Homo sapiens: one gene and its partners. The protein of the gene in region 1 purifies or fractionates together with the protein of each later gene. This does not show direct contact. Each region holds a gene or a part of one and is shown on either strand. Other genes may lie near its edges. The genes, in order: GABBR1, GNG2, PPP1R12A, MTFR2, MFSD8 and MTFR1.

Region 1 (5,176 bases):
AACTGACAGGTCATCAACCTCTCAACCCAAGCCACTCAAGGGGAAATTCCTGAAATTAATGGAAGCCACTGGGAAAGAGAGTAGCTGTTTTTAATTTGCATGTCTCTTTTCTTTTCTTTTTTCTTTGAGACAGAGTCTTACTCTATCACCCAGGCTGGAGTGCAGTGGCGTGATCTCAGCTCACTGCAACCTCTGCCTCCTGGGTTCAAGTGATTCTCCTGCCTCAGCCTCCCAAGTAGCTGGGACTACAGGCACCTGCCACCACACCCAGCTAATTTTTTTTTTTTTTTTTGTATTTTTGGTAGAGACAGGTTTCACCATGTTGGTCTGGCTGGTCTCAAACTCCTGACCATGATCATGATCTGCCTGCCTTGGCCTCCCAAAAGTGCTGGGATTACAGGGGTGAGCCACCACACCCAGCCTGCACACCTCTTTTCAAGAGCAAAACCAGTGCAACTCAAAGACATCAATCTTCTTGTAGTTAAGCTTATTATTATTATTATTTACAAGCTTGATGAACAGAGTTAAAAGAGAAGGGCAGAAGTTGGGAGGTGCCAGGGCAATCTTGTGATGTCTCTGGCATTCTTCCCCAGGGGGCATCCCAGCCCAGCCCCAGCCTAGCCCCCATGTCCGGTCCCCTCCTGCCCCTGTACTAACCCTGAAGCTGCTCGATAAGCGTCCATGCCATCCGAGAGCCGCTGGCATCAAACACCACATGGCCCTGAGGGAAGGAACATGTGGAGCAAGGCAAAGGAGACAAAAGCAAGAGTGAAAGAGAACATCAGGGACTCTTTAAATCCTTCTGTTTTTGATGTAATTGAGCCTCTGAATGAATGCTATTTATGGCATTTGCCTGCATATAGGACATACCCCAGATGCCCATACCCTAGATTTTAGAAACATTATTCTTTGGAGAAGGAGCTTCACTTATGAGATTTGAATGGGAAAAAATCCCCAGACAGAACACCAGCAGGCTTCTGGTTGTGTGGCCTAAGCAAGTCAGCAAATCTCTCTGGAAACTAATCTTTTCATTTTAAAAGGAATAAGAAGATGACCTTTCAGACTGTTTTGTCTTTCAAAATCCTATAGTTCTCATCTGACTCATGAATACTTGGTCTAGTTTGAAAAGAAATGAGGGGAGGGGTTTAAAAAAATGGAATACATCATTTTTTTTCCTCTAGTCTTTGATGGGTTCTTCTAATTTGAAGGTCCCTACTTCTCTGGTCGGAGACTGATTCTGCAAAGAAGTAACTGAGAAAAACAGAGAATGCATGTTTGTAGAAGGTGCCTCTTGGGAGTCTCTCTCAAGATTGGGAAGACAGGGGAGTATGAAGGAAGTTTTAACTCACAGAGACACCCTCAAAGGACGAAGAGTTCATTGCCCGGTAGATTTGGTCGGTAATGGTCTGGTTGTTGTAGTTGAAGTCCTCCAGGCGCACACCAGAACGGCCGCCTCCTCCAGATGTCTTGTTCAGGGCCAGTGCCAAGGCCCAGATGGCATCATAGGCCAGCGGTGCCTCCTGGAAGCCTCCTGTCTCCTCAGGGTGTCTTTTCAGTCGCTTGGTTAGTTTCTCCACAAATTCCTGGGATGTCTTGGGAGGAAAAAATCATGAGGAAAGAACTGAAATGTGTGTGGGTGTGGGGGAAGGGGTGCAATCCAATTCTGACTCAATCACTTCTACTTGAATGGATGGTTTGTGTTACTGTTGTCAGATTGGACACATGTACATTCAAAATCTTTAACTATACCCATGTGTCTGCCTTAGATCGGAAGCTACTAGACTAGAGTAGGTATTAGCTGTGTCTGATGGTGTTAGTGTGTACAGTTGCTAGCTCAGAACTGCAAACAGAGAATTTTGACAAACACTCTGGATAATTAGTGGCAAAGGATGGAAGGTAGAGCAGAGTAAAGGAGGAGACATGGATATTCCAATGAAGAGCTGTGACACTGATGTTCTCTGATCCTTCTGACTTTCTTCATAGAGTTAACCCAGGATCTAACAGCTCCTACAATTCCAAAAGATTCTAGAAAAGGTGATAGCAGTCTTCTCACTCTGCTTGCCAGCCAGGAGGATATTTCTTCAGCATGCTAACTTCTTGCCATTCTTGTGTGCTTTTGGTTCACTGCCTCTTAGAAGGCTTTCAGAAGAATGAAAACTACAGAAATACCCTTCACATTTTTGAAGTCCATTATCAATCCTACCCACACCCCTCCCAACACTCAACCTTCTTTTTCCATGAAAGCTAAAAAGAATGATAGTTCCTTTAACTCTCTCATGAACTGGGTCAAGAGACCTGACTTCATATACCTTGCAGTAACCTTGTTTGGCTAAATAACTGTAAGTAAATTACTTAACCTCTTGGAACTGCATTCTACATACTGGAGAAAATCACATCATTCCTTCCTTACCTCACAGAAACCATACAAGGAAAAGCTTAGCAACTACTTCTTGGGAAACCACAAGTAATACACAGGGGACCATACAAATAATTGTTTGGGTTTGGAATGTTTTAACACAAACGGTAATGAAAGAATAAATAGATGAATGAAGAATAAATAAATAACTTTGTTCCTCATGCCTTGCTCACTTTTCTCTCCAACTTTCTAGAGAGATAGAGGAGTGAGATACGCAAAGGGCACAGGCAAGGTACAGCAGTTGCTACTACACTGGGCTTTGAAGGAGCCTGGGCTTTGAAGATGCAATGGGCCTAGGTTCTACCCTTGAGGACAAGACCAAATCCCATGCCCTCTCTTAATCATCAGCATCTAGCACTGTGCCCAACCATAATGAAGTAACAATAAATGTCCATTGGATTAGGCCAGTGAAAATACTCTGTAAAGTATTTAATAGTAGATACGTCTCATTATACATTTGTCCAAACCCATAGAATATATAACACCAAGGGTGAACTCTAATGTAAACTATGGACTTTGGGTGATTATGATGTATCAATGTAGGTTCATCAGTTGTAACAAATGTACCACTCTGGCGGAGGATGTCGATAATGTAGAAGGCTATGCATGTGGGAAGCATATGGGAAGTTTCTGTACCTTCATCTCAATTCTGCTGGGAAACTAAAACTGCTCAAAAAAAAAAAAAAAAAAAAAAGGCCAGGCACAGTGGCTCACACCTTTAATCCTAGCACTTTGGGAGGCCAAGGTAAGCAGACTGCCTGAGCTCAGGAGTTAAAGACCAGCTGGGCAACATGGTGAAACCCCATCTCTACTAAAATACAAAAAATTAGCTGGGCATGGTGGTGTGCACTTGCAGTCCCAACTACTCAGGAGGCTGAGGGCTGAGGTGAGAAAATCACTTCAACCCAGGAGGTGGAGGTTACAGTGAGCTGAGATGACGCCACTACACTCCAGCCTGGGCGACAGAGCAAGACTCCGTCTCAAAAAAAAAAAAAAAAGGCATTATAAAAAACAAGTCAGGCTGGGCACAGTGGCTCACACTTGTAATCCCAGCTCTTTGGGAGGCCAAGGAGGGTGGATCACCTGAGGTCAGGAATTCCAGACAGCCTGGCCAACCTGGTGAAACCCGTCTCTACTAAAAATACAAAAATTAGCTGGGTGTGTTGGTGGGCTCCCGTAATCCCAGCTACTTGGGAAGCTGAGGTAGAAGAATCGCTTGAACTCAAGAGGCAGAGGTTGCAGTGAGCAGAGATCACGCCACTGCACTTCAGCCTGGGCGATGGAGTGAGACTCTGCCTTTAAAAAAAAAAAAAAAAAAAGGCAGCCAGGCACAGGGGGCTCACGCCTGTAATCCCAACATTTTCATTTTCAGAGGCCAACGCAGGAGGATTCCTTGAGCCCAGGAGTTTGAGACAAGACTGGGCAAAACAGAGAGGACCCAACTCTACAAAATTTTTTTAAAAATTAGCCAGACTTGGCCTGGGCACGGAGGCTCACATCTGTAATCTCAGGACTTTGGGAGGTCAAGGCGGGCAGATCATGAGGTCAGGAGTTCAAGACCAGCCTGGCCAACATGGTGAAACCCTGTCTCTATGAAAAATACAAAAATTAGCTGGGCACGGTGGCTCACGCCTGTAATCCCAGCACTTTGGGAGGCTGAGGCGGGTGGATCACCTGAGGTCCGGAGTTCGAGACCAGCCTGAGCAACATGGAGAAACCCTGTCTCTACTAAAAATACAAAATTAGCCGGGTGTGGTGGCGCATGCCTGTAATCCCAGCTACTCCGGAGGCTGAGGCAGGAGAATGGCTTGAACCTGGGAGGCGGAGGTTGCTGTGAGCCAAGATCGCGCCATTGCACTCAAGCCTGGGCAATAAGAATGAAACTCTGTCTCAAAAAAAAAAATACAAAAATTAGCTGGGTGTGATGGTGGGCTCCCGTAATCCCAGCTACTCAGGAGGCTGAGGCAGGAGAATCGGAGAATCGCTTGAACCCAGGAGGCGGAGGTTGCAGTGAGCCAAGATCATGCCATTGCACTCCAGCCTGGGCAACAGAGCAAGACTCCATCTCAGAAAAAAAAAAAATTAGCCGGACTTGGCTTGGAGCAGTGGCTCACGCCTGTAATCCCAGCACTTCAGGAGGCTGAGGAGGGTGAATCATGAGGTTAGGTGTTCGAGACCAACCTGACCAACATGGTGAAACCCCATGTCCACTAAAAATACAAAAACTTATCTGGGCATGGTGGCACGCACCTGTAATCCCAGCTATTCAGAAGGCTGAGGCAGGAGAATCACTGGAACCCAGGAGGCAGAGGTTGCAGTGAGCCGAGATCACACCATTGTGCTCCAGCCTAGGCAACAGAGCAAGACTCTATCTCGAGAAAAAAAAAAAAAGTTAGCCAGACTTGGTGGCATATGTCTGTGATCCCAGCTTACTTGGGAGGGGCTGAGGTGGGTGGATGACTTGAGCCCAGGAGGTCAAGGCTGCAGCGATTGTACCACTGCACTCCTGCCTGGGCAGCAGAGGGATACTCTACCTCAAAAAAAAAAAAAAAAAAAGGCTGGGCGCGGTGGCTCACGCCTGTAATCCCAGCATTTTGGGAGGCCGAGGCGGGCGGATCACGAGGTCAGGAGATCGAGACCATCCTGGCTAACACGGTGAAACCCCGTCTCTACTAAAAAAAAAAAAAAAAAAAAAAAAGTCTGTTGGATAGATAAATGGATGAATTCATATTCTAATCATTTTACCTGCTATGAAATCTC
Region 2 (5,176 bases), on another chromosome or scaffold:
TTCAGGAATTGTGCTAGGGATGCCTAAAACCATGTCAATTTCCCTTTTTAAGCAGATGCAGCAGGAGATATATCTATGTATACACACACTATATAGAACATATTTTTATACTTCATATATATTAAAATTTATACCTGTGACTTTAACCAAGCATTGTGCCCTTTAGTGATATTTCACTGGGAGGTCGTCACTGATTCTGGCGATGCTGTCATTTCTTACAACATATTTGTAGCTGCTTGTTATGAGTTCCCTGTAGTACCTTCCTTCAACCATCTTCACCAGAGGAAATTTTTACTACATTAGAGCGTGGATTTAGTTTCAGGAAATAAACTAAAAGTCATCTATAGCTACATCTGGGGACTAGGTAAATGATCAACCTGGGGAATGCCATTTGGGGTCAAATTTTTACATAAAATAACACATTTCCACATGAAAGCAACACCACTGTACTACTACGAACGCCTGTCAAGTAACTACTGAAAGGATATCAAAGCAACTACTGAAAGGATAATCTAATTTAAGATTTGGGTGAATTATATTATTACTAAAGATAGTCACTGCCCCTTCCTACAAGTGGGACATACATGCCCACATGATGACATCAGACTTGCCCAGTGACATAAGCTTGCTCTGGCCAGAGAGATGTGAGCAGAATTTATGTGGATCAATTATGGGCAGAAACTTTAGGAGCCAATGCACAGTTTGCCATGTCCCTTCCTCTATACCACTTCGTCCGACTGAAATAATTTATGAGGAACCCTCTTAATTGATGCAGAGGTTTTAACAAATGGCATAGTGGCAATATCCTTGATTTGTTTCTTGTCCCAGGGCTGAGTTGATTAAAGCTTTGTCACTCCTGCCTCAGCCTCCTGAGTAGCTGGGACTACAGGTGCATGCCACCATGCCTAGCTGGTTTTTCAAAAATGTTCTTGCTATTTTGCCCATGCTGGTCTTGAACGCCTGACCTCAAGCCATCCTCCCGCCTCACCTTCCGGAGTCCTGGGATTACAGGTGTAAGTCACTGTGCCTGGCCTTTTTTACTTAAGGCTACTTCAACTTTATGATTTACTGGTTGGGTAGAGAAATCAGTTTCCTCTTCTCATCCCATAAACCGTTGAATTTTTGGGGTCTCTGTTCCCTTTGCCACAGAACAGATAGAAGCAACATTCTGGACAGAGGCTGCTCCATCTGCCAGCATCCCTGATGAAGGTGACATGGTGTGGAGTGGCAGCTGATTTATGATTGACATATGGTAGGAGTGAGAAGTGTGACTGTGCTATTGCAAACCCCTAAGAATGAAGGGTAGGGCACCTTCTGTTACTACCACAACATCTAGCCAACCCTAATTGACACAAAGAGGTACAGGTATTGGTTTGTGTATTTGTTTCCTCTGGCTGTCTTGAACAAGTCCTCACAAACTGGGTAACTTAAAACAACAGAAATTTATTCTGTTAGAGACTAGCAGTTTGAAATCAAGGCATCAGCTTGGTTGGTCCCTTCTGGAGGGTCTGAGCGAGAATCTGTTCCATGCTTCTCTCCTAGTGCCTGGTGGTTGCTGGCAATCTTTGGTATCCCTTGGCTTATAGACATATCACTCCAATCTCTGTCTCTATTTTCACATGGAATTCTCTCCTGAGTGTCTGTGTCTTTATGTGGCATTCTCCTCTCTGTGTGACCAAATTTCCCATCTCACCAGTTAGAGTTACCCTAATCCAGTATGATTCCTCTTAATTTGATTACATCTACAAATACCCTATTTCCAAGTAAGGCCACATTCTAAGATTCCAGGTGGGCATAAATTTTAGGGGACACTAGTCAACCCAATACATGATATGTATGTAAAAATCAGTCTCACTTTTTAATAGACATTACAGTACTTACAAAAATATTTTTATTTTATCCTTATTTTGTTCCAGACATTGAGTTAAATTTCCTCTTTTGATCTTCACAGTAATCCTGAGGTAAGAATTATTATCCTCTTTTTATAGATGAAAAATTGAGGCTCAGCAGATTATATAAGTTGTTCAATATCATAGAGCAAAGCACACAGCAGAAAAAGAACTTGAACTCGAATGTGTTGCCATTAAGCCACAGCCATCTGCATATAAACTACTCAAATGTGGGCTTTGTTCCAAAGGTTGAAATTGAAATTCTTTATGAAATGCTTCTATGACAAAATGAAAGGAAACAGCCTGTTTATGTCTTAGCTCTCCCACATGAAAACAAAGGACAGACTTTCAGACTGAATTGAGATCACTTTTTTTCTTCATTCTTTCTTCTTGTTTGAGCGATAGTCATTGTTACACCAAACAGGAGCTTAGCTGTTAGGCAGTGGAGACAGTAAATCAGTGATATCTAAAACTCATTTGTTACGAGGAGAAGCAGCACCGTTCATCCCTACCCGTTTGCAACACTCACATACAACTATGTAGCATGAATATTCAAAATCTTTTTATGATACAGGAAGTACTATACTAGGAAAATTTAATAACTTAGAGCTGCTCATATCTTTATATTTGAACATTTGATTCTGAATGGTTTCCTTCTTAAAATATATTATGTGTTTTATCTTGTTTCCTCAACAAGACTGCAATCTCCTGTGGGCAATGCTCCAACAGTGTCAGAATCCCAGCAGTAATTAGAATAATTGCTAATATTTATCAGCCCTTGCTATGTGTCAGAACTGTGCTAACCACTTTACATACGGTATCTTATTTAATCCTTACAACAACATTATGGGTCACAAGCTATTATCATTCTCATCTTAAATATGTGAAGTGGAGGCTTCATTAAGTGTTTGCCCCAGGTCCCACAGCTCCTGAGCTACTGAGTTGTGAGTCTCAATGTCCCTGACTTAATCTTCATGAACATTCCTCCTTTCTAACCTGTGGCTGTCTTCCTTGTCCTGTGCCTTATAATGAGTCACAGCAATCGTGTGCCTAGCAGATCTTTCTGCTTTCTGACAATCCCTGCTAACATTTTGCACACAGCTTCTTCTACATTCGTATGCCTACTTCTTCCATGAAGATTTCCCCAATAACTCCAGAAAATCTCTCCCTTTTCTGTCCTGTTGATTCTTCCTCCAAAGATATCTCAAATTTGGCTCCCTTCCTGTTATATCTATTGCAGCTACCCCAGTTCATACTGCAGTCTTCTCTCTTTGTGATTACTAAAATAACTTTGTAAATAAAGGCAATTAATTTGGATTACCCCAGGGTTCCACAGATCGAATTCGGGGGGTGGTATGTGAACTTCAAATAATACAAAAAATTTACATCTTTATTTTTCACTAACCTCAAATGGAAATTTAACATTTCCTCTCATTATAAATATAGACAACACACTGCAGTAGCCCTAGCAGTACATGTGACTTGGCCACTGATAGATACCAGATACTTTCAATCACATTATATTCATTGCAGACACCTCAACACTGCATTTCTGTTCATCCACCTTATGATTGTAGACCTATTAGATCTTACATAATCAGTTAACAAAGGAGTACCTATGTATAACTACATCACATATATTTTTAAAAATTGATATTTTAAATAATATTATTTAAAATGTTTTACAAAAATATTCTAATGACCCTCATGTCAATATAATTAGTTTCTTTTGTAATTTAAAAACATGATTCTAAGAAGGAGACCATAGGCTTGAGCAGACAGACAAATGAGTCAAGAGCACAAAAATGTTTAATTATCTCAGTTTTAAATGATTTCCTGTGTTCATAACTATGCAGGAGTAGTATTCTCCATACTGTAGCTAGAAAGATATTTTTAAAATACAAGTGGATTCCTATCATTCTCCTATTTAAAACCTTCAATAACTTCTCATTGTAATTTGTAGAAAACCAAAACTTTGTAAAACAGCCTGTGGGTATTGCATGTTTTGGGCCTCCCCCTCTCTCCAATTTCATGTTGTAGCATTCTTCCCTCTCAAATATCTCCTTTACTTTTTGAAAGCTCCAAGTTCTTTTTTGCCTCAGAGTGTCACATATTCAGTATCCTAGAATATTGTTCTCTTCATCTCCTCAATGGGTTGGCTTATCATCTTCCTTCAGAAGTCAGCAGAAATACCACCTCCTTGCAGAACCTTCACTGATCGCCTCATCCACAGTGACTTTCCTGATTATTTTCTCTCAGAGTACTTTCTCACATTCTTCTCTTTCACAGAAATTATAAATTGCTTTCACAGTTTATAATTACGGACATCGTTTGTTTATTTGCCATTTAATATTTGCCTTTCCCTTTAGGCTCTGGGCTCCACGAAGGCAGGAACCACACCTGTGTTATTTACTACCGTATAATCAGTGCCTGACACATATTCAACACTCATAGTAATTGCTGAAGGAGTTCTCAAACATAATCTTCTTCGACAGATATTTCATGCAACGAATATTTACTGAGCATCAAATATGCCAGGTGTAGTCTGGATACTTGCAATAATCAGGGAACAAAATATACAAAGATGCTTGTCCCTGTAGAGTTTATACAGCATTCTATACTTCCAATTTTGGCTATGATGGAGTAATAAGGGCCAACTAAACTCTCCTGCCTTAAATTAAAAACTGGGCAGAATATATGAAGAAATAATTTTTAACTTTTAGACAATAGGCAGCACAGAGGAGTGATCCCTGAGAGAAGGGAGATAAGATAAATTCTACAGTTGCCCCAGCTTACTGCCTGCCACTGCACAGGGAGGGAGTACCCAGACAGAGTTCAGCAATCTCCCTGAGTTGAGGAGAGAATAGCAGAGAAGAAAGAATTACACTAGGGGAGAGAAAGCTCTTAAGGCCTCTGGAGGATTCATCTTGAGCCTTTGGCTGAATACTGATTGGCACATGCATAGGAGAAAACCACTTGAGGCTATGCAAAGAATATCAGGAAGGAGCAAGTAAAACAATCCTGGAGATCACATAGGGCCAGAGTAGAAAGGCTTCCCAGCACACAAGACATTGAGTAGAGTCCTAACAAGGTTATTACTTCATTAGTGATGCCACATAGCCCCAGGTTAAATGTTGTGGACCCACCTATCAAAGTTGAAAAGTTGAAAAGTAAGTCTTGAATAGATCAAAATGTTTCCAAGTAACTTAACTGTTAACTATTGTTAAATACTTTAACAAAAGTAACAATTGTTATTTTTAAACAATTGTTATTTTAACAATTGTTAA
Region 3 (5,176 bases), on another chromosome or scaffold:
TGGTGTTATCACTGATTATTATTACTATTTTTGAGATGAGGTGTCGCTCTGTTTCCCAGGCTGGAGTGCAGTGATATGATCACAGCTCACTACAGCCTCGACCTCCTGGCCCAACTGATCCTTCTGCCTCAGCCTCCTAGTTAGCTGGGACTACAGGCATGCACCATCACATCCGACTAATTTCTTAAATTTACTGTGGAGACAGTGTCTCCCTATGTTGCCCAGGTTGGTCTTGAACTCCTGGGCTCAAGCAGTCCTCCCACCTCAGCCTCCCAGAGTGTTGGGCTTATAGGTGTGAGCCACCATGCCCGGCCTAGCATTATTTAAAAACTTTTAAGAATTGTGGTAAAAACCACGTAATATAAAATTTACCATGTAAACCATTTTTTAGAGTATATAGTTCAGTATTTTTAATTATATTCATATTGTTGTGCAAAAGATCGCTAGAACTTTTTCATCTTGCAAAAATAAAACTCTATATCCAATGAACAACTTCCTTTGTCCTCCTCTTCCTAGCTCTGGCAACAAAGGTTCTACTTTCTGTTTCTATGATACCCAAATAAAATAAGTGGAATCACACAGTTCTTGTCTTTTTGTAACTTGCTTATTTCATTTAGCATAACGCCCTTGTTCCCCAAATTTTAAGATTAATTTTCCAAAGTAAAAATATCTTTTTAAAGATAAAAAAGATTAAAATATATAGAAAGATATTCAGAAATATCTTTCTGACTATGGTATTGTAAAGTTCACATAATGGTATACAAAGTTCCTGTGTAATTCCTCATCCCTCCATTCTCTAGATAACCACTGTTATCTAACCAACCTTTTCTGGACACATAATATCTATGTGAATATAGAAAATATTGATCTATGCACATACATTGCACCTTATTTATTTATCTACATCCATTCTTCCTTTTTCTCATGGTATAGCAGTTACTAGGTTTAGGTGAGATGACACATGGCCCATGTTGGTAGCAAAATGGCTGCAACAGTTCAGTGATAGGCCCTGTCTATCCTAAGCCAACTATAATCCTATCCCTATGAGGTACATCAGCCTGAGGATGAAGCTGACACAAAGGACTGCAGAATATAACTGGAGTACAATACATTTTCTTTGTTTAATCCAGTTTGACTTAGGTTTCATATTGTTATTTATATTTGTTATATTTATTTATATGTTATTCATTACTTTAAAAGAACTCTAAACAATCTAAAGTAAACAAAAACTACTTAAATTGAAAATAAAAAAACTTTTCGTCTTAGAAACAATGTTCCTCTTCATCTTAACGTATCTCATATGATTTTAACAGTAAAACTTAAAATACAGTATACATCAATATGCTTCAAAATTACAACTTTAAAAGCCAGACAATCTCCCTTCCACTCCAGCCTGGTGGGGGCTGGAGTCTGCGTGATAAGGCAATGAGAGGTGTCAGATGGGGATGGTTTACTAATTTCCTCCCCTCTTGTTTAATAAAGAAGGGACATAGGTAAATTGGGGAGTTCTGATAACTGATAACCAAAAAATTTAGGTAACAGTTAAAGCTTTAGGCCTGCAAATAATTTAACCTCAGAACCAATTCACTCCTCATTGTCTGGCCACCTAAAGATAAAATAAAATTGTGGGGTCAAAATAGGCAAACTTGGCCCTAAAATAATGTTCACCGTCACCTAGCACAGGTAACCAACTTTTGTTCACATTACTGTAGATCCTTGCTGACTAAAAAGAAATGTAATAGCTCTATTAAGGAACTTCAACTCAAAATGAAGAAAATAATATTAATATGACCAGAATGCTATTTCATGCTAGACAGTGCCAGGTTTAGACTCGTGTTGTTCAGCTCTATCCTCATATGAACAGAAATATTTTGAATATTTTTTAGCTTTCTACACAGCCAAACAATCAGGAAGGGGGTCGGGGGAACTTTCAACCCTTGCTGGCTGTGCAGCCTTGTCATTCAAACTTGCTTTAGGTCCTTCATCAGTACTGAGAGGAAAAAAATGTCTTTTAGATTCTCAACATAAAAATCTGTTGGAGACTCTAAATTTCTAAATATATGTAAAAGAAAGTTAAAAGATGCCTATATTCTCCAGAACATAACTTTGAAATAAAATCTACAGAAATAAAATCTGAGCCTACTACTTCTGGATTTCCACTACTTCTGATTATCCTTTAGATATTTTCCTTTGGCCAAGGGTACTATTTCTTTTTTTGCTTTTTCTTTTAACTCCGAAGGTTAAATGACATACATTAAATTACATCCACTTAGAGTGTACAATTTGGTGAGTTTTGGCAGTTCTGTATATCCATAAAACCACTGCTAGGATCAAGACTCAGAACATTTTCATCACCTCCAAAACATTATTTTGTGACCCTTCCCAGTCCTTTTAATCCTGATCCCCAGGCAAACACTGATATTGCATACCCAGCATGTAGGTAGAGTATGCAATAACTGCTTTGCATGAATAAACATAATAAAACGCAATTTAAAAGTAATTATTAAAAAATATGAATACTTCTCAATACAAAAAGTAATGGTATTTACCTGAGTTTCTTTCTTATTGGATCCCTCTTCTGTGTCTGATTGTTGTTCTTGTTCATTTTCATCACTCTAAAAACAGATTGCCAATTTATATTTTAGGAAATTTTAGTAATAATTTCAAAATTTATTTTTTAAAATTATTTTTGGGAGTCCTTCTCTCTCAGAATATACATTGAGACATTTGTAGATAGAATGAGATGTCTAGGATTTTCTTCTAAATAATATGGGAGTTGGGAGATGGAGTGGGAATTTAGCTGAAAAAATGAATACTGGGGGTAGGGCTCATTATACTATTATGTTACTTCTATAAAGTATATGTTTAACTTTTCTATATTAAAAATCAAAAGAAAAATAGAAAACTATTTTCCGATTTCCCCATCTGTTCTTCCCTTCTTTGTCATTTATGTATGATTTTCCCTCTCTTTTTAAACTTTTTTAAATAGACATATGCACTCTTGATTCATCAAGTTGAATATATATTTTGTCCACAGCATGGACAATGCGAAGATACTAAAACTCTTCAACTCCATTTAATACTTTCCCATATTTTTGTGCTATTGTTTTCATATGCCTTAGCTCTTTATATATTTTAAACTGCAAATGACAATGTTATTTGTTTCATGTAATTAAGTAATTAGTAATTAAGTAAAATTAAAATGGACTGAAACACTGCAATTAAAAAAAAGTTCAGAAAAAAGTTGACCTAAATATGTTGTTTATTAAAAAAAACACAAATAAATTGAAAATAACAGAAAAGATATATTATACAAAGATAATCAAAAGGAAGCTTTTCAAAAAAGCAGAATTTAAGGTCAGATATAATATTAGAGATAAAGAGGAACATATAGTGAGAGATGGGTCAGTTTAACAGGAAGACAGATGATTCCATGTTCTTTCAGTGAAAGAATAGTTAGAAATTTTCTTTAAAAAATATTTTTATAACAATAGAAGTAAATGTACTGCTACATAAAATAGCATAGATATATCTTATAAACATAACAGTTATAAAATTTATAGTTCTAGTCATATGCTCTTCAAAAACAGGCATAGTTAACTACGGTGTTAGAAATCAGGATACTAGCTGACTTTGAAAATGAGGATGATAGGGATTGAGAGGGAGAACATGGGGGCAATCTACACTGCTGTTTTTATTCATCATTCTGAGTGGTGATTACATAGATATGCTCCTATTGTGCTAATCCATTAAGCTATACATGTATGAATTATGTTTCTAAACATGCCATACTTCAATAAAAGGTTTATTTTTTAGAAAATGGAAACAAAATCAATGAATAGCAATGTCAGGCCTACAATCAAGGACCAGGAAAACACTAATTTTTACAAGACTGTTGTAATTTGATAAGCAAAGCACTGTGTCTATTTAGCATGCTTTGAGATGGAAGTAATCTGTAATGTAGATCTTATAATGATATTTATGAAAATGAAATTAAATAGACTCCTTAGAAATTCTTAAAAGATGTTTTTACAAGAAGCAGTTTACCTATTATAAAATAATCAATACATGCACTCTGAGCTTCAGACATTATTATTTCTATTCCATAATTAGGTCAGAACCACTCCTTTTAAGTAGTACCAACAATCTAAGTAGTTAACTATCCTTAAAAATAATTTTTCTTATTTAACAACTCAGAAAACACAGTGATGATTTAAGGAATATGAAATCTAAGGCATATAAGAAATTATTAGTATGTATTTTTGGACACATTAAGAATACTATCAAGAATACTATCAAATAATGTATTTTAATAGGTTCTCACATCTTGTGTCCAAAATGAAACTCCTGTAGATCTTCTTTTCTCTCTTGGTCGTCGTCGTTCTCTGATTGATTTAGGTTGTGATTTATCTTCTCCTTCTTTCTCCTCTTCTCTTTTTTCTCCCTCTGTTAAGGATTGCAATGAACCACAATATAGCAATATATCTTGACAATATTTTGCAAGGTAATTGTAAAAACAATGGGTAAAATGGGCCAGGGGACTATCTAGGGGGATGGAAGGTAGGCAGCTGCTACTACTTAGCTCCAGCCAATTGTTGGTATGTGAGAATTCAGATCCAGTGTTGCCAGGTCAGCCAACTTTTCAAGAAATGGCAAAAATCTGAAGTTTGAAGTGAGTATCTCTAATTTTAAATGTTGGTTCAACATTTTTACAAACACAATGCAGGCCTCACACATAGAAGTTTAAAGAACTGAAACATCTCAATGATCAACATGAGAAAATATATAGCTGGAAATTGGGAAAAAACTTTATTTTCTGCTGTTTATTCTACATTACTACTGATATTATCATGACTAATACTGTAAGATTTAGGCTTTAAAATATGAAATGCCTATATTTAGTACTTATATCTGATTTAAAGTAGGAATTACTCAGAATTTAAATAGAAAGTTTATATAAAATAATAGGAAATGGTAATGAGTATCAATATGCCAATATATAGTTGAGAAAGAAATGTATTTTTTAAGAAATAAGCATAAAAATGTGTTTTAGTGAGAGCATTACATGTAGTTAGTAATTTTAGTTTACAACAATTTCACAAAAAAACATTTAAATGATATGATCTACACAGTAGGCAAGAAATAGCTTAAAGCATCTGAGAAGTACTACACTAGT
Region 4 (5,176 bases), about 110 Mb from region 1:
TTGGAGGGCTCAATGCATCTGAGTTTTCCAGTCTCTTCCTCTGCTGACGTCTGTCCTTCCTCAGTGCTATCTAGCTGACTTTAGATGCTGTTCCTCTTCCACACTCCTGTCATTCTCAAGGCTTATTCTTATGTGTTAATACTACCTCAACTAAATTAAGACATGTGAAAACCACCCCAAAATTAGAATTACTTCTAAATTTAAGAAAAGAGACTTCAAGTAAGGAGTAATCTTAAGGCTCAAATGCTTAAAATCCAGTGTTTGTCATCCTAGGCATCCAGTAAGTGCTGTCACTAAAGATAACTATAATCCCATTTGCTTTTTTACATGCAGAGTTAACATTATATTCAACAAAATATCCAAAGTCTGTATATTTGACAGAGAAAAATCTTGGCGTATTCACATTCCATATGGTTAGGGGGAATCTATTGCACCATTCTTCCCTGGCCCTCTCAAACTGTCAGACACCCAGTTCATACTGCAGATGGCAACATCAAATTGGCACCTAAGATAAGTCATTATAAACATATGCACAAATATTTTTCAAATTAAGTATTTTATTTCAAAAGAGCTCATGATAGGCTAAAAGTGAAAATGAGCATATAAAATTAACAACAAAAAAACCCCAGAAACATTAGCAGCATCAATAAACAATTATATAGCCCATTCTGCACAATTACTTCAAGAGAACTTGAACACAAAGCTGTAACATAAACAACACATCTGAGAAAAACTGAAAAATTAATTTTACATTAGTGTAGCTTACCCTTGAAGTTTCTGGACTAGAAAATGGGGAAGATTCCCAAGATCTATTCTCTTTCTCAAAAGAATCATCTTCTTGAAATGCAAATTTCTGTTTAAGTGCATGAGATATTAAAGAAACTGGATCCCAATGTGAATTCTGTCTTTTCCTCTTATGAATGGGTCTACCGCCAGGTGACCTATTTTTTAAAAAAAAAAATTGAATTTATTAAAACTTGGATGTAATTTTAGCTCCTTGTTGACAAACATGGCAGGAATACAAGCATATCTTACAATTTAATTAGTCTTCAAGAGATTGAAAATAATCTAATCTTCAAGAAATTTTCGCAATGAAATAAGGAAGGCACAATGAATGAAGAATCAGAAAACCAAGAACCCATGTGACTTGAGACTCTGCCATAACCTTGTTATGACCTGAGATTTGTCAGATGTCACTATGCTGAAGATCTTTATTATGGTAATTTTCTAATTTCCTAATGGGTAGGAAAATTCAAATAAATAAGAACTTTTAAAAGGACGAGAGTTCATGCCAAAAAAAAAAAAATTACGCAAATTGTTCATTTGTTTGGTTGTTCATTCATTTAATCTTCATTGAATGCCCACTACCACATCCGACTCCATTTTATGCTTTGGGAGTATTCTGCTCCCAATTCTTACAGCAAGATTATCATCAATATACAAGTAAGATCATTTGGCTGGTAATAAGAGCTGTGAATAAAACAAAACAGAGGCTGGGCACGGTAGCTCATGCCTATAATCCCAGCACTTTAGGAGGCCAAGGTGGGAGGACTGCCTGAGCCCAGGAGTTCGAGAGCAGCTTGGGTAACATAGCGAGACCCCATCTCTAGAAAAAATTTAAAAATTAGCCAGGCAACTACTTGGGAGGTTAAGGCAGGAGGATCACTTGAGCCAAGGAGGTCAAGCCTGCAGCAAGTCATGGCACCACTACACTCCAGCCTGGGTGACAGAGCAACACCCTGTCTCAAAAAAAAAAAAAAAAAACTAAATTAAAAAATAAAAAATAGGGAAATGTAATAGTGATTAGGGACAGAAGCACTTTAGATATGATCAGAAAAAAAGCCTCTTTAAGGAAGCAACATCCTCTTTAAGAAAATGACAAGGGGTCAGTTTTAGTGTAAACATCTGGGGCTGCATCAGGAAGGAGCTTGGCATGTGTGAGAAACGGAAAAAAGAAAGCAACTGCAGCTGGAGTGCAGTGGGCAAACATGGGGCATAGGAGAGGAGCTCAGCGAGAGAAGTGAGGGCTGGCTCCTGGAGGGGCCTACGGACACAGCAAGGGCTCTAGAACTGATTCAAGCACAACGGAAACCCACAGAAGAGTCTGAAGCAGGAGAATGGCCTGATCTGACTTCTGGTCACTATCTGCAGAATAAATAAGGAGGCAAGAATGAAAACAGATCACTGAGGAGGCTGCTGCGGAAGTCTAAGCTAGATAAGAATGGGCTTAGCCTGGGGAGTTGGCAGTGGAGGTCAAGAGGTCCACAGAATTGAGCTATGTGCTGATGGGAACGGTGGGAGATAGAATGGAAAATAAAGATGAAGGATGATTCCTAGATATTTGTTTTTGTTTTTTTGAGACGGAGTCTCGCTTTGTCACCAAGGCTGGAGTATAGTGGCTCACTGCAACCTCCGCCTCCCGGGCTCAAACAATTAATTCTCCTGCCTCAGCCTCCTAGTAGCTGGGATTACAGGTGTGCGCCATCATGTCAGGGTAATTTTTGTATTTTTAGTAGAGACTGGGTTTCACCATGTTGGCCAGGCTGGTCTCGAACTCCTGACCTCGAGTGATCTGCCCACCTCAGCCTCTCAAAGTGCTGTGTTTACTGGTGTGAGCCACCGCACCTGGCCTGATTCCTAGATCTTAAGCAACCGGGTGATCGTGTTGCCATTTGCTAATATGCAAAAGACGTGGGAAAGAACAGGTTTTCAAGGTGGCGGAAAAGAACAGGTAGGAAGGAAAAGTCCTGTTTTGGACCTGTGAAACGAGATACCTGTGAGACAGGCAAATAAAGATGTCAAGTAGGCATTTCAGTATGTGCATCTGGGCTCAAGAGGAGAGGTCAGGGCTAGAAAAATAAACGTTTGAGTCATAAGCATACAGCTGGTATTTAGAGTCATAGGACTAGGTGAGCTCACCAAAGGAAACAGCATGGACAGAGAAGAGAGGGGGCTGAGGTCTGAACCAGGTATTTCAACATTTAAAGACCAGGCCCAGGGGGAAGAGTTTAAGGAATAAGAAGGAATAGCTGATGAGGTCAGAGGAAACCTGGGGGTATGCTTTCCCAGAAACCAAGTAAAGAAAGTGCTCCAGGCTAGGCGCAGTGGCTCATGCCTGTAATCCCAGCACTTTGGGAGGCCAAGGTGGTCGGATCATGCGGTCAAGAGATCGAGACCATCCTGGCCAATACGGTGAAACCCTATCTCTACTAAAAATACAAAAATTAGCTGAGCATGGTGGCACATGCCTGTAGTCCCAGCTACTCGGGAGGCCGAGGCAGGAGAATCACTTGAATCCAGGAGGCAGAGGTTGCAGTGAGCCGAGATCACGCCACTGCACTCCAGCCTGGCAACAGAGCGAGACTCCGTCTCAAAAAAAAAAAGAAAGTGCTCCAAGGAGGTGGGGACCATAGGCTGTATCAAATGCTGCCAAGAGGTCAACTAAGACGAGCAATGCTAAGAGACCAGTGGATTTAGCCACATGGAGTCACTGGTGAAGCAGTTTTCAATGGAGTTTTCATGGGTAGAAGGCAGCAGCGATAGACAGAAACAAATTATAGACGACTTCAAGAATTCATATCAGAAAGGGGAGCAGAACAACAGAACAACGGCTGAGAGTACATGTGTTTTGAAGGTGGGAAGTACTCAGGTGTGAGGAGAAGGATGAAGTATAGAAGGAAGACTCAGTGATGCAGAAGGGCTCATTTTAAGTGAAATCCTTGTGAAGAGGAAAGAGAAGGGAAACCAGTAACCAAAGGAAGAGCCTGGCCATGAATGATGACACTTGGCTCCCAACAGCAAGATGGAAGGCAGAGAATCTGCACGGGGAATCTGTAGGTGTAAAGAGGTGAGAGAGCTCATCTGATTCCTCAGCAACGTACAAAACAAAGTTAGCTGTAGAGGCAACTCAGGAGAGAATAGGGGGACAGGAGGCAGAGGCTACTGGCCTTTTAGTTGTTTTTCCAGTGATGGTAACAGTCACAGAGTTGCCACTTGATACTAAGCCCGACAACACAAGTACAAGATCTAGTTGGGACCAAGCATGCACCTACAGCCATGAGATTCTTCTCAACAAGCTGCCTCATGCTCTTCCTGTGGTTACTGGTTTCCCTTCTCTTTCCTCTTCACAAGGATTTCACTTAAAATGAGCCCTTCTGCATCGTTGCAAGGATCAAACTCACAACCTCATTAAAAACAGAACTGACTTATCTGTCCCAGGACTATCATACAGAAAATATATCTATTTTCTCACCGAAAACCTCACTGAGGGATTTCCAAGTAAGCATGGCAAATCCCTTGTGAAATCCTACTAAAATGACAGTAAAGAAATGAAAAAGATCTATATATCCACAAGGACAAAGAGATTAGAAGGGGAGACAGGAGATAAGAATTGCAACCAGATGCCGGAAGCTGGAAAGCTGATGAAAGTGAGAGCATGGGGCGTGGGCGCCCTGCTGAACACAGGGCGTGTGCTAAATAAGACACTTCTCTCTTGCTCCTCTTTCCCCACTCAGCTCTCCAATGACCTGACTTGCACCCGCTGTGTAATCCCCATCCCTCCTGACCACAAGGGAGAATGAAGAACTTTCTAAGGAAAATCCTGTAGCCCAAAAGAAAAGACATACAGCTCTGGGGTGTGGCCAACAAAATGGTCCTCTCCCTAATCACTAAACTGTGAAGCTCCCAAGTTGATAAGCCCACCTCACACAAAGAACATGCGATCAGCTTTTCCTTGCCTCATTTTAAATAAGAATCACCAGATGCTTACCCAAGGCTACAAAACTAAAGATAGAGATCAAAGCTAAAAGGAAAAAAGAAACTCACAAAAAATACAGTAATTCAAGAACAGAGGAAACTTAAAACAAACCTACACTTTTAATACTGTCAGTGGGATAAGACCAACAAAACCAAAAAGATTTTAACAAGAAGCATTTGAAGAAAAAGAAACAGCTCTTAAAAATTAAAAATGTGGGCCAGGTGTGGTGGCTCACACCTGTAATCCCAGCACTTTGGGAGGCCGAGGCCGGCAGATCACAAGGTCAGGAGTTCATGACCAGCCTGGCCAACATGGTGAAACCCTGTCTCTACTAAAACTACAAAAATTAGCTGGGCATGGTGGCACGTGCCTGTAATCCCAGCTACTCGGGAGGCTGCAGCAAAAGAATTGCTTGAACCA
Region 5 (5,176 bases), on another chromosome or scaffold:
TTCTCTTGCCTGATTGCCCTGGCCAGAACTTCCAACACTATGTTGAACAGGAGAGGTGAGAGAGGGTATCCTTGTCTTGTGCCGGTTTTCAAAGGGAATGCTTCCAGTTTTTGCCCATTCAGTATGATACTGGCTGTGGGTTTGTCATAAATAGCGCTTATTATTTTGAGATACGTTCCATCAATATCAGTTTATTGAGTGTTGTTAGCATGAAGGAGTGTTGAATTTTATCAAAGGCCTTTTCTGCATATATTGAGATAATCATGTGGTTTTTGTCATTGGTTCTGTTTATGAGATGGATTACATTTATTGATTTGTGTATGTTGAACCAGCCTTGCATCTCAGGGATGAAGCAGATTTGATCGTGGTGGATAAGCTTTTTGATGTGCTGCTGAATTCAGTTTTCCAGTATTTTATTTTTTATTTTTATTTATTATTATTATTATTATTATTATTATTATTATTATTATTATTTGAGACAGAGTCTTGCTCTGTCGCCCAGGCTGGTATGCAGTGGCGTGAACTTGGCTCACTGCAAACTCCGCCTCCCGGGTTCATGCCATTCTCCTGCCTCAGTCTCCTGAGTAGCTGGGACTACAGGTGCCTGCCACCACGCCTGGCTAATTTTTTTTGTATTTTTAGTAGAGATGGGGTTTCACTGTGTTGGCCAGGATGGTCTCGACCTCTGACCTCGTGATCCACCCACTTCAGCCTCCCAAAGTGCTGAGATTACAGGCGTGAGCCACCGCACCTGGCCTGGGTTTGCCAGTATTTTATTGAGGATTTTCGCATCGATGTTCATCAGGGATATTGGCCTTAAATTTTTTTTGTTGTGTCTCTGCCAGGTTTTGGTATCAGGATGATTCTGGCCTCATAAAATGAGTTAGGGAGGAGTCCCTCTTCTTCTACGGTTTGGCATAGTTACAGAAGGAATGGAGTTTCAGAAGGAATGGAAACTTTGTACCTCCAGTAGAATTCGGCTGTGAATCTATCTGGTCCTGGGCTTTTTTTGGTTGGTAGGCTATTAATTACTGCCTCAATCTCAGAACTTATTATTGGTCAATTCAGGGATTCGACTTCTTCCTGGTTTAGTCTTGGGAGGGTGTATGTGTCCAGGAATTTATCCGTGTCTTCTAGATTTTCTATTTTATTTGCATAGAGGTGTTTATAGTATTAGAGAATACTGTGGTATTCTCTGACGGTAGTTTGTATTTCTGTGGGACCAGTGGTGCCCAAAATCTCCTTAAGCGACAAGCAACTTCAGCAAAGTCTCAGGATAAAAAATCAATGTGCAAAAATCACAAGCATTCCTATACACCAATAACAGACAAACAGAGAGCCAAATCAAGAGTGAACTGCCATTCACAATTGCTGCAAAGAGAATAAAATATCTAGGAATACAACTTACAAGGGATGTGAAGGACCTCTTCAAGGAGAACTACAAACCACTGCTAAAGGACATAAGAGAGGACACAAACAAATGGAAAAACATTCCATGCTCATGGACAGTAAGAATCAATATTGTGAAAATGGCCATACTGTCCAAAGTAACTTATGGATTCAATGCTATCCCCATCAAGCTACCATTGACTTTCTTCACAGAATTAGAAAAAAACTACTTTAAATTTCATACGGAACCAAAACAGAGCCCATATAGCCAAGACAATCCTAAGCAAAAAGAACAAAGCTGAAGACATCACAATACCTGACTTCAAACTACACTACAAGGCTACAGTAACCAAAACAGCATGATTCTTGTACCAAAACAGATATATAGACCAATGGAACAGAATAGAGGCCTCAGAAATAACACCACACATCTACAACCATCTGATCTTTGACAAACCTGACAAAAACAAGCAATAGGGAAAGGATTCCCTATTTAATAAATGGTGTTGGGAAAACTGGCTAGCCATACGCAGAAAACTGAGACTGGGCCCCTTCTTTATACCTTATACAAAAATTAATTCAAGAAAGATCAAAGACTTAAACATAGGACCTAAAACCATAAAAACCCTAGAAGAAAACCTAGGCATTACCATTCAGGACATAGGCATGGGCAAGGACTTCATGTCTAAAACACCAAAAGCAATGGCAACAAAAACCAAAATTGATAAATGGGATCTAATTAAACTAAAGAGCTTCTGCACAGCAAAATAAACTATCATCAGAGTGAACAAGCAACCTACAGAATGGGAGAAAATTTTTGCAATCTATCCATCTGATAAAGGTCTAATATCCAGAATCTACAAGGAACTTAAACAAATTTACAAGAAAAAAACAACCCCATCAAAAAGTGGGCAAAGGATATGAACAGATGCTTCTCAAAAGAAGACATTTATGCAACCAACAAACATATGAAAAAAAGCTCATCATCACTGGTCATTAGAGAAATGCATATCAAAATCACAATGAGATACCATCTCACACCAGTTAGAGTGGCAATCATTAAAAAGTCGGGGAACAACAGATGCTGGAGAGGATGTGGAGAAATAGGAACACCTTTACACTGTTGGTGGGAGTGTAAATTAGTTCAACCATTGTGGAAGACAGTGTGGCAATTCCCCAAGGATCTAGAACCAGAAATACCATTTGACCCAGCAATCCCATTACTGGGTATATACCCAAAGGATTATAAATCATTCTACTATGAAGACACATGCACATGTATGTTTATTACAGCACTATTCACAATAGTAAAGACTTGGAACCAACCCAAATGCCCATCAATGACAGACTGGATAAAGAAAATGTAGCACATATACACCATGGAAAACTATGCAGCCATAAAAAAGGATGAGTTCATGTCTTTTACAGTAACATGGATGAAGCTGGAAACCATCATTCTCAGCAAACACAGGAACAGAAAAACAAACGCCACATGTTCTCACTCATAAGTGGGAGTTGAACAAAGAGAATACATGGACACAGGGAGGGGAACATCACACACAGGGGCCTATTGCGGGGTGGGGGGCTAGAGGAGGGATAGCATTAGGAGAAATACCTAATGTAGATGATGGGTTGATGGGTGCAGCAAACCACCATAGTACATTTATACCTATGTAACAAACCTGCACATATATTCCAGAACTCAAAGTATAATAAAGGCTGGGTGTGGTGGCTCACGCCTGTAATCCCAGTACTTTGGGAGGCTGAGGAGGACGGATCATCTGAGGTCAGGAGATCGAGACCATCCAGGCCATTGCATGGCTCTTTGCTGACTTCACTAAGGTCTCAGCTTAAATGTAACTTCCTCATATATACCTTCCTTGAGCAGTGTATCAAATACAACATTTCCCCACTTCCCAGCCCTGCCCTTGTCACTCCTTATTCTTTTCTCTTCTATTCTTCTTTGTAGTACTTACCACTATCTGACTTCACATTTGTGTTTATTGGCTTTCCCCCTACTGGAATACACGTGCTTTGAGGGGATGGTATTGGACATTCTATAAGAATGTGTATCAGCAGCACTGCTCTACTTCTGTAGCAAGATGTAATGTACTTCCTATTAACTTTGAATATAAATATATGTCTATCTTATATCTTGATCCCTCTACTTGGCTCCATAAGGACAAGAATTCTCATAGTACCCCCATAGCACTGAACCTGATACACTGACTTAACATTTGTTGATTAATTTTAGAACCTTATTAAAGTACATACAGTCTCTGACTTATGAGTGTCCAACTTAGAACTGTTCAGCTTTACAACAGTAGGAAAGTGATACTCATTCAGTAGAAACCACACTTCAAATTTTGAATTTTGATATTTTTCCAGACTAGTGATCTGTGGTATGATACTGTTTCATGATGCTGGACAGCAGCAGAGAGCCACAGCTCCTAATCAGCCACATGATCACAAAGGTAAACATCCAGTACTATAATCTACAGTATACTGTATTTGGCAAATTACATGAGATATCCAACACTTTATTATAAAATACGCTTTGTGTTAGATGATTTAGCCAAACTGAAAACTAATGTGAGTGTTGGAGTGTGTTTAAAGTAGGCTAAGCTAAGCTACAATGCTCCGTAGGTTAGGTGTATTAAATGTTTTTTTTTTTTTGTTTTTCGCTTTTTTTGAGATGGAATTTCACTCTTGTCATCCAGGCTGGAATGCAATGGCTCATTGCAACCTCCACCTCCTGGGTTCAAGCGATTCTTGTGCCTCCACCTGTGGAGCAGCTGTGATTACAGGCACTGGCCACCACACCCAGCTAATTTTTGTGTATTTAGTTACGACGGGGTTTCACCACGTTGGCCGGGCTGGTCTCGAACTTCTGACCTCAGGTGATCTGCCCGCCTTGGCCTCCCAAAGTGCTGGGATTGCAGGCGTGAGCCACTGCACCCAGCCTGTATTTTCAACTTAGTGCTATTTTCAACTTATGATGATCAGTTTATCAGGATGTAGCCCCATTGCAAGTTAAAGAGTATCTGTATTTGAGGAATACTTAAATAGAACTGTCTAAATTCATCAACTAATGTTCCACCATAGACTATATGACTGAACTTAATTTTACACAAGCATTTCCCTAAAAATATGTTCCTTACAGTTGTACTTTTACAAAATGATTCTTTTTTTAAGAGATGGGTCTTGCTCTGTCACCCAGACTGGAGTGTAGTGGTACAATCACAGCTCACTGCAGCCTCAAACTCCTGGGTTCAAGCAATCCTCTCGCCTCAACCTCCCAAGTAGCTGGGACTACAGGCGTGCTCCATCATACCCAGCTAATTGTGTTTGTGTGTGTGTCTGTGAAGAAATAGGGATCTCATTATATCATAGTGAGATAAGATCTCACTATGTTGCCCAGGCTGGTCTCAAACTAACTCCTGGGCTGAAATGATCCTCCCATTTTAGCCTCCTAAATTGCTGGGGTTGCAGATGTGAGTCACCATACCTGGCCAAAATTATTCTTTTATTTATTTGTATTTATTTATTTATTTTGAGATGAAATCTCACTCTGTCACCCAGGCTGGAGGGCAGTGGTGTGATCTTGGTTCACTGCTGCAACCTCCACCTCCCAGGTTGAAGCGATTCTCTTGCCTTAGCCTCCTGAGTAGCTGGGACTACACGCACATGCCACCACACCCTCTATTTTTAGTAGAAAAATTTTTTTGTTTTAGTAGAAATGTGCCACCACGCCCTGTATTTTTAGTAGAAAAATTTTTGTATTTTT
Region 6 (3,500 bases), on another chromosome or scaffold:
GGAAAAAAAATTTGCAAACTATTCACCTGACAAGGGATTAACAACCAGAATACATAAGTAGCTCAAACAATTCAATAGGAAAGAAATCGAATAATCTAATTCAAAAATGGGCAAAAGATCTGAATGGACATTTCTCAAAAGAAGACTTACAAATGGCAAACGGGTATATTAAAAAAGTGCTCCAATCATCAGAGAAATGCAAATCAAAACTACAATGACATACCATCTCACCCAGTTAAAATGGCTTATATTCAAAAGACAGCCAAGAATGAATGCTGGCAAGGATGTGGAGAAAAGGGATCCTCATATCCTGTTGGTGGGACTGTAAATTTGCTCAACCACTATAGAGAACGGTTTGGAGGTTCCTCAAAAAACTAGAAATAGAGCTACCATATGACTCGTCAATCTCACTGGTAGGTATAGACCCAAAAGAAAGGAAATCAGTATATTGAAGCAATATCTGCCGTGCCATGTTTGTTGCAGAGCTATTCACAACAGCCAGGATTTGGAAGCAACTAAATAAATGTCTATCAACAGACAAATGGATAAAGAAAATGTGATACATATACATAGCGGAGTACTATTCAGCCATTAAAAAGAATGGGATCCTGTCATTTGAAAATAACATGAATGGAACTGGAGGATATTATGTTAAGCGAAATAAGCCAGGCAGAAAAAGACAAACTTCACATATTCTCACTTATTACGGGACCTAAAAATTAAAACAACTTAACTCATGCAGATAAGAGTATAAGGATGGTTGGCTAGGCGCGGTGGCTCACACCTGTAATCCCAGCACTTTGGGAGGCCAAGGAAGGTGGATCACAAGGTCAGGAGTTCAACATCAGCCTGGGCCAAAATGGTGAAACCCCGTCTCTACTAAAAATACAAAAAATTAGCTGGGCATGATGGTGGGCGCCTGTAATCCCAGCTACTCGGGAGGCTGAGGCAGAGAATTGCTTGAACCTGGGAGGCGGAGGTTGCAGAGTAAAACTCTGTCTCAAAAAAAAAAAAAAAAAAAAAGAGTATAAGGATGGTTACCAGCAGTCTGGCCAACATGGCATAGCCCTGTCTCTACTAAAAATACAAAAATTAGGCTGGGCATGGTGGCTCACAGCTGTAATCCCAGCAGTTTGAGAGGCTGAGGTAGGCAGATCACCTGAGGTCGGGAGTTCGAGACCAGTCTGGCCAACGTAGTGAAACCCCATCTCTACTAAAAATACAAAAATCAGCCGGGCGTGGTGGTGGGCGCCTGTAACCCCAGCTACTTGGGAGGCTGAGGCAGGAGAATCGCTTGAACCCAGGAGGCAGAGGTGGCAGTGAGCCGAGATCACGCCACTGCACTGCAGCCTTGGTGACAGAGCGAGACTCCATCTCAAAAACAAAACAAAAAAACCCAAAAGGATGGTTATCAGGTGCTGCAAAGGACAGTGTGGGGGGGTGGGGGGAGATGGAGTAGGGATGGTTAATGCATACAAAAATACAGTTAGAATGAATAAGACCTAGAATTTGATAGCATCACAGGATGACTATAGCCAACAATAATTTATTGTACATTAAAAAATAACTAAAAGTATAATTGGATTGTTTGTAACACAAAGAAAGGATAAATACTTGAGGTGGATACCCCATTTACCATTTACCCTGATGTGATTATTACACATTATATGCCTGTATTAAAATATCTCACGTACCCCATAAATACATATACCTATTATGTACCCACAAAAATAAAAATAAAGATAAAATGGGCCAGGCGCGGTGGCTCACACCTGTAATCCCAGCACTTTGGGAGGCTGAGGCGGTGGATCACCTGAGGTCAGGAGTTCAAGACAGCCTGGCCAACATGGTGAAACGCTGTCTCTCCTAAAAATACAAAAAATTAGCAGGTCGTGGTGGCGGGGTCCTGTAATCCCAGCTACTCGGGAGGCTGAAGCTGGAGAATCACTTGAACCTGGGAGGTGGAGGTTGCAGTGAGCCGAGATCGTGTGTGCCATTGCACTCCAGCCTGGGAAACAAGAGCAAAACTCCATCTCAAAAAAAAAAAGAAATATAAAATGATACAGTATTTCCATATAACCTATACACATCCTCCCATATACTTGAAGTCATCTGTAGATTACTTGTAATACCTAATATAATGGAAACAGTTGTCTACTGTATTGTTTTATTTGTATTGTTTCTTATTGTCATATTGTTATTTTATCATTGTTTTTTCAAATATTTTCTATCTGCGGATACAGAACCTATGAATCCAGAAGGCCGACTATATATCAAATCGGCCATTTCAAAAAGTAACCAAGGGAGGGAGGTGAAAAAAATTAATAAAATATCTTAGAGCTATGATAGCATCACTGCACTCCAACCTGGCAACAAAGAAAGACTCTGTCCCTAAAAAAAAATCTTAAATGTTTAAAAAGATCTTAGTTATACTGCTTTATATATATATTTATATGTACATTACAATGTATGTTTTTTCAATCATGGAAACTTAACTTTCCTGTTTAACTTGTCTGACTGTTTACATTTTAACCACAACCAACTCACACCAGTCAACTCCAGTTGTACAAATTATACGTTAAATGATATCTCCCGGTGGAGTCGGAGCAGAAAAAAAATTTTTTAATGATATCAACTATTTACACAAAACAATTTATTTGGTAAAAATGACTTGCAGATTGACTGGTTGACAATAACTTCAGTATCATAAATGAAGGAATTGTTTCAGAGGTGGAATGTTCTGGTCCCTAAAACAGCAGCCCTGAGTGCTCTCCCAGCTGACATATTTTTCATTTTACTAGCCACTCTGAAGATTTTGAGAAGAGCCATGTAATTGAGAAACCTATTTGCAACTTAATGTAACAAATGGTTTATATCCCTAATGAATATAAAGTGCTTGCAAATAAAGAAACAAATGGGCCAGGCATGGTGACTCACGCCTGTAATCCCAGCACTTTGGGAGGCCGAGGTGGGCGAATCACGAGGTCAGGAGATCGAGACCATACTGGCTAACACAGTGAAACCCCGTCTCTACTAAAAAATAGAAAAAATTAGCCGGGCTTAGTGGCGGGCGCCTGTAGTCCCAGCTACTCAGGAGGCTGAGGCAGGAGAATGGAATGGCGTGAACCCGGGAGGCAGAGCTTGCAGTGAGCCAAGATCGCACCACTGCACTCCAGTCTGGGTGACAGAGCGAGACTCCATCTCAAAACAAACAAACAAACAAACAAACAAACAAATGATCAAAAGCCCAATGGAAAAATAGGCATAGTACGTCAGTAGGCATTTTACAAGTAGAAATACAAACAGAAAATAAAATGTGAAAAATGTCCAACAGTAATCAAATAAATGTTAACTAAAACTGTTATCACCTTTTCCCCATCAAGTGGTTATCTTTAAAGGGTAGGATTATAGTGTCATTTTTTTTTTTGTTGCTTATCTAAATTGTGTAATTTCTATCAATAGTATCTAATAAATATATAAAAGAATAGTTCAGTAGCTGG

Evidence for each region.
Region 2: the proteins of GABBR1 (region 1) and GNG2 purify together in Homo sapiens (affinity purification with a luminescence readout, with the first as the bait; one study listed by BioGRID). This does not show direct contact.
Region 3: the proteins of GABBR1 (region 1) and PPP1R12A purify together in Homo sapiens (affinity purification with mass spectrometry; one large-scale study listed by BioGRID and IntAct). This does not show direct contact.
Region 4: the proteins of GABBR1 (region 1) and MTFR2 purify together in Homo sapiens (affinity purification with mass spectrometry; one large-scale study listed by BioGRID and IntAct). This does not show direct contact.
Region 5: the proteins of GABBR1 (region 1) and MFSD8 purify together in Homo sapiens (affinity purification with mass spectrometry; one large-scale study listed by BioGRID and IntAct). This does not show direct contact.
Region 6: the proteins of GABBR1 (region 1) and MTFR1 purify together in Homo sapiens (affinity purification with mass spectrometry; one large-scale study listed by BioGRID and IntAct). This does not show direct contact.

The regions. Positions count from the first base shown.
Region 1 is NC_000006.12:29,611,894-29,617,069, forward strand, and holds part of GABBR1 (gamma-aminobutyric acid type B receptor subunit 1 isoform a precursor), read right to left. Parts: intron 1,593-5,176; coding exon 1,350-1,592; intron 722-1,349; coding exon 658-721; intron 1-657.
Region 2 is NC_000014.9:51,960,587-51,965,762, reverse strand, and holds part of GNG2 (guanine nucleotide-binding protein G(I)/G(S)/G(O) subunit gamma-2 precursor), read right to left. Parts: intron 1-5,176. UniProt on the Homo sapiens protein: Guanine nucleotide-binding proteins (G proteins) are involved as a modulator or transducer in various transmembrane signaling systems.
Region 3 is NC_000012.12:79,791,314-79,796,489, forward strand, and holds part of PPP1R12A (protein phosphatase 1 regulatory subunit 12A), read right to left. Parts: intron 4,447-5,176; coding exon 4,325-4,446; intron 2,616-4,324; coding exon 2,550-2,615; intron 1-2,549. UniProt on the Homo sapiens protein: Key regulator of protein phosphatase 1C (PPP1C). Mediates binding to myosin. As part of the PPP1C complex, involved in dephosphorylation of PLK1. Capable of inhibiting HIF1AN-dependent suppression of HIF1A activity.
Region 4 is NC_000006.12:136,232,559-136,237,734, forward strand, and holds part of MTFR2 (mitochondrial fission regulator 2), read right to left. Parts: intron 942-5,176; coding exon 767-941; intron 1-766. UniProt on the Homo sapiens protein: May play a role in mitochondrial aerobic respiration essentially in the testis. Can also promote mitochondrial fission.
Region 5 is NC_000004.12:127,923,123-127,928,298, forward strand, and holds part of MFSD8 (major facilitator superfamily domain-containing protein 8), read right to left. Parts: intron 1-5,176. UniProt on the Homo sapiens protein: Outward-rectifying chloride channel involved in endolysosomal chloride homeostasis, membrane fusion and function. Conducts chloride currents up to hundreds of picoamperes.
Region 6 is NC_000008.11:65,647,734-65,651,233, reverse strand, and holds part of MTFR1 (mitochondrial fission regulator 1 isoform 1 precursor), read right to left. Parts: intron 2,009-3,500; exon of another isoform or gene 1,695-2,008; intron 1-1,694. UniProt on the Homo sapiens protein: May play a role in mitochondrial aerobic respiration. May also regulate mitochondrial organization and fission.